3 linked regions of the Homo sapiens genome follow. The protein of the gene in region 1 purifies or fractionates together with the protein of each later gene. This does not show direct contact. Each region holds a gene or a part of one and is shown in the gene's direction. Other genes may lie near its edges. The genes, in order: TMEM38A, NCEH1 and LZTFL1.

What was found.
Region 2: the proteins of TMEM38A (region 1) and NCEH1 purify together in Homo sapiens (affinity purification with mass spectrometry; 3 studies listed by BioGRID and IntAct, with this or other methods). This does not show direct contact.
Region 3: the proteins of TMEM38A (region 1) and LZTFL1 purify together in Homo sapiens (affinity purification with mass spectrometry; 2 studies listed by BioGRID and IntAct, with this or other methods). This does not show direct contact.

What each region holds. Positions count from the first base shown.
Region 1 is NC_000019.10:16,678,116-16,681,866, forward strand, and holds part of TMEM38A (trimeric intracellular cation channel type A), read left to right. Parts: intron 1-1,868; coding exon 1,869-2,025; intron 2,026-2,281; coding exon 2,282-2,466; intron 2,467-3,751. UniProt on the Homo sapiens protein: Intracellular monovalent cation channel required for maintenance of rapid intracellular calcium release. Acts as a potassium counter-ion channel that functions in synchronization with calcium release from intracellular stores.
Region 2 is NC_000003.12:172,709,374-172,713,124, reverse strand, and holds the start of NCEH1 (neutral cholesterol ester hydrolase 1), read left to right. Parts: upstream 1-2,057; 5' UTR 2,058-2,140; coding exon 2,141-2,278; intron 2,279-3,751.
Region 3 is NC_000003.12:45,828,465-45,832,215, reverse strand, and holds part of LZTFL1 (leucine zipper transcription factor-like protein 1), read left to right. Parts: intron 1-1,077; coding exon 1,078-1,143; intron 1,144-1,225; coding exon 1,226-1,303; intron 1,304-3,600; coding exon 3,601-3,751. UniProt on the Homo sapiens protein: Regulates ciliary localization of the BBSome complex. Together with the BBSome complex, controls SMO ciliary trafficking and contributes to the sonic hedgehog (SHH) pathway regulation. May play a role in neurite outgrowth. May have tumor suppressor function.

The sequences.
Region 1 (3,751 bases):
GAATATAATGCCATAGAACCACACACTTGGCCAGCCACTTGGCAGTGGCTCATGCCTGTAATCCCAGCACTTTGGGAGGCCAAGGTGGGCAGATCACAAGGTCAAGAGATTGAGACTATCCTGGCCAACATGGTGAACCCCCATCTCCACTAAAAATACAAAAATTAGTTGGGCGTGGTGGCGCATGCCTGTAATCCCAGCTACTCGGGTGGCTGAGGCAGGAGAATCACTTGAACCCGGGAGGAGGAGGTTGCAGTGAGCCGAGATCGCGCCACCGCGCTCCAGCCTGGTGACAGAGTGAGACTCTGTCTCAAAAAAAAAAAAAAAAAAAAAGAGCTATACACTTAAAAATGTTTAAAATGGGCTGGGCATGGTGTCTCACGTCTATAATCCCAACTCTTTGGGAAGCTGAGCCAGGTGGATGGCTTGAGCCCAGGAGTTTGAGACCAGCCTGGGCAACATGGCGAAACCCCGTGCCTACTTTAAATATACAAAAAATTAGCCTGGCATGGTGGCGCGCGTGCCTGTAGTCCCAAATACTTTCGAGGCTGAGGTGGGAGGAGTGTTTGAGCCCAGGAAGTCAAGGCTGCAGTGAGTCGTGATTGCACCACTGCGCTCCAGGCTGGGTGATGGGAGTGAAACCCTGTGTCCAAAAAAAAAAAAAAAAAAAAAAAGTAAAGTGATAAATTTAATGTATATTTTACAAAAAAAAATTCTTTTTAAGACAGCAGGTGTAAGAATACCAGCATAAGGCTGGGCACGGTGACTCATGCCTGTAATCCCAGCACTTTGGGAGGCTGAGGTGGGAGGTTCACTTGAGTCCAAGAGTTGGAGACCAGCTTGGCCAACATGGTGAAACCCCTTCTCTACTGAAAATACAAAAATTAGCCAGGCATGGTGGTGGCTGCCTGTGATCCCAGCTACTCGGGAGTCTGAGGCAGGAGGATCGCTTGAACCTGGGAGGCAGAATTTGCAATGAGCTGAGATTGCACCATTGCACTCCAGCCTGGGTGACAGAGTGACACTCTGTTTGAAACAAACAAAAAAAGTTAAAAAAAAAAAAAAAAAAGAATACCAGCATAAGCTCATAGGGATCTTGGGATCAGCTGAGGTCAGAATAGCAATTTCTTTTGTTTCGTGTGTGTGTGTGTGTGTGTGTGTGTGTGTGTGTGTGTGTGTGTGTATGTGTGTGTTTTAGATGGAGTCTTGCTCTGTTGCCCAGGCTGGAGTGCAGTGCAGTGGTGCAATCTCAGCTCACTGCAGCCTCCACCTCCTGAGTTCAAGTGATTCTCCTGTCAGCCTCCTGAGTAGCTGGGATTACAGGCATGCACTACCGTTCCCGGCTAATTTTTGTATTTTTAGGGACGGGGTTTCACCATGTTAGCCAGGCTGGTCTTGAACTCCTGACCTCAAGTGATTTGTCCACCTTGGACTCCCAAAGTGCTGGGATTACAGGTGTGAGCCACCATGCCCGGCCCAGAGTAGCAATTTCAAAGTACTCCCAGGTACAAGCTGGCCCGTCTCACCAAGCCTCAGTCTCCTCTTGACAATGAGACTCCTGATAATAAAAGCCATCACTTGGCTGGGACACTGATGAGGATTTATTAAGTCCTAAATGTGAACTAGTGTCATCATCATTGCCACCTCTCTGGGCATGAAGGAAAGGACTCCCACTCGGCTCTCTATTTTCTCTGTGCAACCTCAGGCATGCGTACAGCCTCTCTGAACCTTGGTTCCTCCTCTGAAACTTACAAACTGCACAGTGTTGGGTGGGCGCTCTGGATTAGGATAGGCTGACCAGAGCATATGGGAGTGAAGCCTGCCCTTGGCATGCTGGTGATGATGGGGGACACTCCTGTGCCTCCCAGGAGCAGTCGAACTGTCCCGGCGCCACCCCATCGCGTCCTGGCTGTGCGCCATGCTGCATTGCTTCGGGAGCTACATCCTGGCTGATCTGCTCCTTGGGGAGCCACTGATCGATTACTTCAGCAACAACTCCAGCATCCTGCTGGCCTCAGCTGTCTGGTAAGCCATGCTGGGCATGGGAGAGCAGAGCCGGGTGGGGGAAACAACAACCTGGGCACCAGGGAGGAGAGAGGTTGGAGGAATTAGAATGCACCAGCAACAGCCCTCATGATGGCCCTGAATATGCTGCCCTCCATGCCCATCTCTGGTCTAGGCACAGCACGTTGGGGAGGGTGGTCTGATATAACCACAGCTCCCTACCCCCATCCTTCACAGTCTGCCCATCCCCTGGCACTCACTGTTCTCTCCCCAAAAGGTACTTGATTTTCTTCTGCCCCCTGGACCTCTTCTACAAGTGTGTCTGCTTCCTGCCTGTGAAACTCATCTTCGTGGCCATGAAGGAGGTGGTGCGAGTCCGCAAGATCGCGGTGGGCATCCATCACGCCCATCACCACTACCACCACGGGTGGTTCGTCATGATTGCAACTGGGTGGGTCAAAGGTAAATAGGATGATGACAATGAAAAATCATCCCAGTGGAGAACTTTTGGTTCAGTGGTACTACCAGGCACCCCAGCTAGGAAAGCCATTGCTCCAGGCACAGGGGCATAAAGACTGCAGTAGGTGTTCAAACCTCCCTACAGGTATCAGCCGATACCTTTAGGGTAAATGGGAAGATTCTTCTAGAAATGTTACTGTCAGGGGTACCTAAGACAGTGATGATGATGACAAAAGCCAGCATTGCCAGAGCAGGTTTTCTCACTTGCAGCACTACTGACATGTGGGGCTGGATCATTCTTTGTGGTGGGGGCTGCCTTGTGCACTATAGGATGTTGAACAGCACCCCTGGCCTCCACCCACGAGATGCCAGTAGCACACTTGTCCCCAGCTGTGACAAAGAAATTGTCTCCAGACATTGCTAAACGCCTCCTAGAGGGCAAAATGGCTGCAGGTGAGAACCCCTTCTTCTCTAGAGCTCTAGCTATAGGAGTTCTTAACTTTTGTGGACCATGGCCCTTTTGCCAGTGAAGCCTACAGACCCTTTCGTGTGCAGAAAATAGAGCTAGACATGGTGGCTCATGCCTGTAGTTCTAGCTACTCAGGAGGCTGAGGTGGGAGGATCACTTCAGCCTAGGAGTTCAACATTACAGTGAGCTATGATTGTGCCACTGCACTCCAGCTGGGCAACAGAGCAAGAGTCTGTCTCTAAAAAATTAAAATTAAAAAATAAAGTAATAATGAAAATGTTATTAGAAATAAAGAACGTTTTATAATGATAAAAGGGTCAATCCACCAGGAAGATATAACAACTATAAACATATATGCACCTAGAAACAGAGCACCAAAATACATAAAGCAAAAATGGACAGAAGTTAGGGGAGAAAGAGATAATTCAACATTAAAAGTTGGAGAAGTGGGCCAAGGAGTAACAGGAAAGCAGGGAAAGAAGGCCTGAGCAAGTGCCAAAAACCATTGGGCACTTTATCCTCGCTTCCTGCCCACCAGATATGGGTACCCACAAAGTGCCAAGACCTAGAATCACCCTCCATTGAGCCATGGTGTCCTCAGTTATTCCTTGCTATGGGGAGCCAACCTGTGCATTATACAATGGTGAGCCACCTCCCTGGCCTCGACTCACTAAATACCAGTAGCGCTCCCTCCCCAGCTGTGACAACTCAAAGTGTTTCTCAACATTGCCAGATGCTTCCTTGGGGGCAAAATGGCCCCAGATGCGATTCCCTGGTCCAGTAGTACATCTCAGGCACCCAGTTGGTGCAGCAGTTCCT
Region 2 (3,751 bases), on another chromosome or scaffold:
AGGCTGAGGCAGGTGGATCACCTGAAGTCAGGAGTTCAAGACCAGCCTGGCCAACACGGTGAAACCCTGTCTCTACTAAAAATACAAAATTAGCTGGGCTTAGTGGCAGGCATCTGAAATCCCAGCTACTCGGGAGGCTGAGGCAGAATGGCTTGAACCCGGGAGGCAGAGGTTGCAGTGAGCCAAGATTGCACCATTGCACTCCAGCCTGGGTGACAAGAGCGATGCTCTATCTCAAAAAAAAAAAGAATAGCTTCTAATTTTCTACACATATACTCACACACAAACATAAACATAAACATTCCTATCTGTTTAGAGTTATGAGTTTAACCAGTAACTTAAAAGACAGAGAGAGAGAGAGAGAGAGAGAGAGAGAGAGAGAGAGAGAGAGAGAGAGGCCAGGTGCCGTGGATCATGCCTGTAATCCCAGCACTTTGGGAGACTGAGGTGGGCAGATCACAAGGTCAGGAGTTTGAGACCAGCCTGGCCAGCATGGTGAAACCCCATCTCTACTAAAAATACAAAAATCAGCCAGGTGTGGTGGTGGGCACCTGTAATCCCACCTACTGAGGAGGCTGAGGCAAGAGAATTGCTTGAACCCAGGAGGTGGAGGTTGCAGTGAGCTGAGATCGTGCCATTGCACTCTAGCCTGGGCGAAAAGAGCAAGACTCCGTCTCAAAAAAAACAAAAAACAAACACCAAAAACAAACAAAACAAAAAAAAAAGAGAGAGAGAACTTGCTTGAAATACCATGAAAGTGTGCCCTTCTTATCAGTTTTCCTTCAATGTTGAAGAAGAAGCCAACTGTTTCCTAAAAATCTCATTATCAGAACCAAATTTATGGTTATTTCACTTCTATTAATTTGATTAAATTAAAATTACCATCTTAAGATGCATAATTATATATACTAGGTGTTTTAAGACCTTCATCAATAAGTTTGGAGTTGTCATCCTACCACTTTCTTGAAACAGGTCTTCTAACTGTTTTCCTTCTGGATTTCTGGTTGAAATTTTGCTAGTGAAGTTTTCTCTCTCCCATTCAGTACTCACCCACCCCTCCTCACCCCCAATCATTAACAAGAAATCTGGGTTTAAGTGTATTTCTGCTACCATTGACTCACTGAAAGAATTTTTCAGGTGATATCCACACGTTTCTCCAATAAAAAGTTATTATTTTTTCCCTTTGTAGTAATTTGTGGAGAGATCTTCTGATGAAGGACCAAAATTCTGTGTCAAATTTTTACCCTCTAGTTTTAGCATTCATTTATGATTTTCTATGGATACTAGCTGGCATTCTATTTTAAGAAAAGCCTTTCTTCTTTCCTCATTTATTTATATTAATATAGATTGTTGAGTTTTATTTTAATCAATGGGTTATCCATTATGATGATTTATATTGATGGTAAAATTATCCCAGCTTCAGCCACTGGGAGACCCTTCAAGCTGGCAGCTGTGGACCTTTGACCAGTTCCTATCATTTTTTGAGCACTTCCGCATCTCTGGCACAACAGGTTCATCTTGTACTTTACAGCCCCAGCCCTGGTATCAGCCTTTTCTCCAGAGGTTGTGTCAAAAAGCCGTGGTTCCTCTTATTGGAGCATAGGATTTAGAAACCAAGACTTGGGTGCTAGATGTACTACTGGCCTTTCATTGCTTGAGCCAGAAGAATTTAATATCTTCTTTTGCCATATATCAGCTAGAACTTACAAACCACTCCAAGTCTGGCTCCAGAAAACAGAATTTTTATATCCTTTCTCAGTACTCTGAGTCAGAATGACCCACTTGCTTTGTCCAGAGACTCGTCACACTGAAACTATTTTCCGTTTGAGACCTTCCAGGAGGAAAGCCATCCTCACACGCATGCAGTACAAACCAGTGTCCTCCAGAGTCCGCTGTGCCTACGGCCAGAGCAGCGACAGAGCCTTCCTCAAACCTGTAGTGACTGCCACACTTTGCAAGGACACCGTAGAGGGGGCATGTCCGCGCTCCAACTTCCTCCCGACGCAGCCTCTGATTGGCTCCTGGGCTTATAAGAAACGCGTGAATGAGCAGCTGCCGCGGGCAGAAAGTTGCCGGAGGTCTCCGGGTGGTATCGCCCTTTCCTCTTTGCCAGCCCGCTGGCGAGCCGAGCCAGGGCAAGATGAGGTCGTCCTGTGTCCTGCTCACCGCCCTGGTGGCGCTGGCCGCCTATTACGTCTACATCCCGCTGCCTGGCTCCGTGTCCGACCCCTGGAAGCTGATGCTGCTGGACGCCACTTTCCGGGGTGCACAGCAAGTGGTGAGGTGCAGCCCAGCGCTGCTTCTCTCTTCCTCCTCTTACGCAATATTTGAAGGGGATACAAAATTCCTCCGCCGGGTTCCACGAAAACGCAGGTTTTTCCTAATGCATTGAGGCTGTCGCTTTTTGAGGTGGTCCAGTCGGGAATTTTCAGGGTATCGCATTCGCCTCCTTGCTAGCAGCGGGCTAGATCTGCATTTCCCCGTCTGCGTTTGTGACGGGGAAGAAGTGCTTGAATAGAATTTGACAACTGTTTAAACCTTCGTCTGTCCTAAATATCTTCCTCTTCCTTGGTTTGCAACGTCAAAAGGCAAATCCTTAAGCAGTTTATAAACCACCCTTCTTCACACTGTCGTTCTCCCATAGGGACCGGCAGAGGATAAATATTTTTAGGAGAGCTCGGGAAAAGCAGGCTCTGGTTCCTGGGAATGCAGCCACCTTAGAAGCAGAAGCAGGCAAGGGCAGTCTCGCAATGTCCCCAGGCTGTGGAGCGCTCCGTTCCCGGAGACAGCAGGCAGGGCTCTCCATCCAAGCACTTGAGGAACCATAGGGATCTCTCGTTTCACCCGAGGCAGATCTCAGCTCAGCCCAAGAAAGAGGACTGGGAGGCTGGGCTGGCTGAAAGGAGGTGAGGAGGCGGCAGCCCTGGTTTGCATGATGCATGTTTTCTGCTTGCCCTGCAGCATTTATTTTATGTCCTTGGCTGTCAGATAACCTTTTCCTGAGCGAGGTTACCTGCCTTAACCTGGGAGGGTAACATTTCTCTCCACTGTATCATGGGCGTGTGTTCATTCCTTCCATACACAGGAAAATATAACTGTCTCTGGTTTATTCCATGGTAAGAGGCATTATTTTTAGTGTCAGAGAATCTAAAATCTAAACTACAGTCTGCAGCCAAGGCTGAGCCCTCTGATTGGACAGTATTTCTGAGCAGCCTGCTCTATCTAAACTCTAACCTTCTCCAAAACCAAGCCTCCTCCCTCCCCACAACCTTGGGCTTTAATCTCAGAATATTTTTATAAACTCTTTCTTTCAGAAATGACAACTAGAGAAAGAGAAAAAAAATCATTTCAACCTGAGAAAGCTGATTTTAAAAAAGTCATGATTTTCCCAGAGGGTTTATGTTCCTGTTCCCTGTCCACTCATTATGTGTAGGATTACATAATCTGTGGGGCTTTATCCTATGAAAAGTCCCCTTACTAGGATATTGCAGCACATTCCTAGCGTGGATTTGCTTTTCCTGAATTCAGCCACATTCTCACCTCCAAAGCCCCTTTTGTCTCTTAGGAAAGGTCTATGAAGCTATAGACCCCTGCCCCCCTTCTTTTCCTCTTGCTTCCTATAATGTTGACATGGTGAAAATGATCATCCCCTTCTTTAGCACTGGTGTCAAGAAAGTCAGTCTTGTTGTAGGAAGCCTTGCATTCCCTCTCCTCCCCCATGAAATTATGTAATTTGAAAGTAATACCCTTC
Region 3 (3,751 bases), on another chromosome or scaffold:
AGAGTCTTGCTCTGTCGCCCAGGCTGGAGTGCGGTGGCGTGATCTAGGCTCACTCCAAGCTCCACCTCCCGGGTTCACGCCATTCTCCTGCCTCAGCCTCCGAGTAGCGCCTGCCACCACGCCCGGCTAATTTTTTGTATTTTTAGTAGAGATGGGGTTTCACCATGTTAGCCAGGTTGGTCTTGATCTCCTGATCTTGTGATACGCCCGCCTCGGCCTTCCAAAGTGCTGGGATTACAGGTGTGAGCCACCGTGCCCGGCCAAAAATGTAATAGTTTTATTGGGAAAGTAGAACTGATGTTCTAGAAATAGAGACCAGAGAATATTCTCCTGTGTGCTACAGGTGTCATACTGGGTAGCAGAGAAGACTCAGTTGTGTGTGGATAACAGTAGGTGAGAACAGGCTCTTGGGTAAAGGGGTACCTAAGCTGGGCCTTGAAGGATGAAGACCAGTTAAATTGTAGAGGAAAGAGAAGTGAGTGTGTTGGGCAGGAGAACAGAACAGGCAGTGGTCAGACAGGAGGCGGCATGACTTGAAACAGAGTGCAGTGCCCTCTGACTGGGCTGATGTGTTTATTTGAGTCTACTGAAAAATAACACAGATGATTCAAATGTTTGAGCTGTATAAGAACAAAAGTGTTTGGCCTCACCTCAGTCAGAAGCATCTGTGGGCTTGAGCATGGTACTGAAGTGAAGGAGTTCTCAGGATAAGGGGCAACAGTGTGCAGTGTAGGCTGAGAATAGACCCAGGATTTGCAGGACCAGCTAGGAGAAAGTTGGCAGGGAAGCGGGTCTTTGGAAAAAAATTTGAAAACAGAAAACAGAGGACTGAAAGAGGGAAGATGTGTCTGAGAAACTGAAAGAAAAGAAACTAGATGTCTTAGATCCAAAGCTGACTCACAGATACTGAGGCTGATAGGCTGGATGAAATTGGGATATTACCAAAATATCAGTAGTACATTTTTGAGCTATTATGTAATTTAAATTTAAAAATTAGATTTTTAAGTGAAACAAGTAATAATTTCAAATATTAAAATATTTTGGTTAATATAATAAAATTTGAATTTACTCACAAAGGAAATTTTAAGACTTCAAGAAGAGAATGAGAAATTGAAGTCAAGGTTGAAGACCATTGAAATACAGGTAACTGAGAAATGTTTTGACACAATTATTGAACTGCCTACAGATTAAATACTGAAAGTGTTTTGTTTAAACTTCACTATAGGCTACAAATGCACTGGATGAAAAGTCAAAACTAGAAAAAGCACTGCAAGATTTACAGCTTGATCAAGGAAATCAAAAGGTGAAACAAGTTTTAGCTACCTTTCTCACATTTTCTAAGTAGAATGAAGTTATAAACTTAAAATTAAGTCTTAGTTACTGCTCACTGTACCCCACCCCTGCTACTCCCTGAGACAAATGCCTCTATTGTCATGTGTTGGGACATTCTTGCCCCCAAAAGGCCTGGTGAGAACCAGTGACCTTCCCTCTGTCCATCCTCTAGGGCAGAGGGGACAGTACATAGCTCACACACCTGCAGTTTCCCTGGCATGCAAGATATTCTCACATTTATTTTTTAAGTTTTTCTACAATCTTCCTGGTATGCAAGATATTCTCACTTTTTTTTTTTAAGTTTCCCCTCTCACTTTGACATCCAATTACAGTGGAGGGGAAAGAAAATGAAAAGAAAAGTTTTTAATTGGTTTATATTTGGGTTTTATTATACTGAACATTACTTAAGTTTGCCTTTGATGAGTGTGACAAAATGATTATGAATCTGCAGATGCGTCTGTACCCGCCGGCACCATAGAGTACAATGAAATCCAGTGTTGTAGTTCTTCATGCTTGTCTGAATGTAATGACTGAATGTCACTCCGCCTGCGGGAAGTCATTGTATGTACAGTCTGTCTCCTGTGGACTTTCTGTTGAGTGTGCATGCTGCAGTATGATTTCCTGTGAGCAGGACCATTTGGGTAGATATTCAGTACAGCATTGGCTTTTCTAGTGGTCATACTCTCATTGCAAATGTCTGGTAAACAAACCCAAAATCTGCTTCACTGGGCTTTTGCTAATCTTTTCTCTATGAAAAATTTCAAACATACACAAAAGTAGAGAGAATAGTATAATGAACCCCCATGCACTCTTCACTCTATTTAGCAGTTACCAATGCATGGCCAGTCTGGTTTCATTTGTACCTCTACTTTCTTCTTCCCACCAGCCATGTTTTTTTGAAGCAAATCTCAGACGTTGAACCATTTTATCTGTAGATATTTTTAAAATAGGAGGATACTTCTTATATAGCTAATGATTTTCAACCATTATATGCCAATGACAATAGATTTATAAAAACACGAATGTTCCAGAACCGCTTTATAATTTCTCCTAAGTCAAACAATTGCAAACACATGTGGCTGATGAATTTGTTTAAAAGCTTTTTGGGGCTTTGCTCCAATTTTACTTTAAGATTTTGGACACAAGAACAACCAGTGAATACGTGCTTTTATTAGTTGCAATGAAAATCTTTTTTTCAAAGACCAGATTTCAAAAATGAGGAAAGATTTTTTTTTTCTTCTGTTGAAAGTACTTTTTTTTTTTTTTTTTTTTTTTCTTTTGAGACAGGGCCTTATTCTGTTTCCCATGCTGGAGTGCGGTGGTGCAACCATGGCTCACTACAACCTTGACCTCACCGGCTCAAGCGATCCTCCCACCTCAGCCTCCCAAGTGGTTGGGACCACAGGCATGTGCCACCATGCCTGGCTAATTTTTTATATTTTTTGTAGAGACGGGGTCTTGCTCTGTTGCCCAGGCTGGTCTCAATTTCCTGGGCTCAAGTAGTCCTCCTCCCTTGGCCTCCTAAAGTATTGGAATTACAGGCGTGAGAGCCACTTGAAAGTACTAAGTATTTCTTCATCTACATATTAACCAATTGTAGACCATTTTACTGTCTTATCAGTACAAATGTTTTTTCTGTCATGAATCTTATCCAGTCAAAAACAAGATCCAGGAAGAGAGAAGATCCAGTGCCTGTCTTATGCTATAGTTGTCAAAGTATGCAAAAATTACACATATCTCATGAATATAAAAAACTTAAAATCTTAAAAATTTAGAAAACCATGTAATCAGTAATTGTGCTCTCATATTATTTCCTTGTAAATAATGACTAAAACATATGTCTATTAAGTTTTTGGTATAAATTATATTACTTTTATCATTTTTTCTATCATTTTGAAGAATTCAAACTTCTTTGAGGATTTTTTTAAATTTGGCTTTTCAAAATGAAACCTGTTTGCCATCTCAACCCTGGTACACACATCTTGGATGGAAATACCAGCAGTTCACAAATCATATTTTATGTATTTGGAATTCAGTGGCTACTGAGTGTCGGCTGTGTGCAAGACACCACGTACCCAGGGCTGACAATGGACTGGCCTGCTGGTGACTCTGAAGGGGCTGGCACTTACCTAGGCTGGCAAGGGAGGCTGGCATGCACACAAAACATACATCATTTTTTTCATCTCCTATGATGTTGAATCACCATTCTAAAACAGTTATTTTTAGAATATCAACATGAAATTACATGCATGCATTTATTTTTCATAGGATTTTATAAAGGCCCAAGACTTAAGTAACTTAGAAAACACTGTCGCTGCCTTAAAGAGTGAGTTTCAGAAGACACTTAATGACAAGACAGAAAACCAGAAGTCACTGGAGGAGAATCTGGCGACAGCCAAGCACGATCTACTCAGGGTTC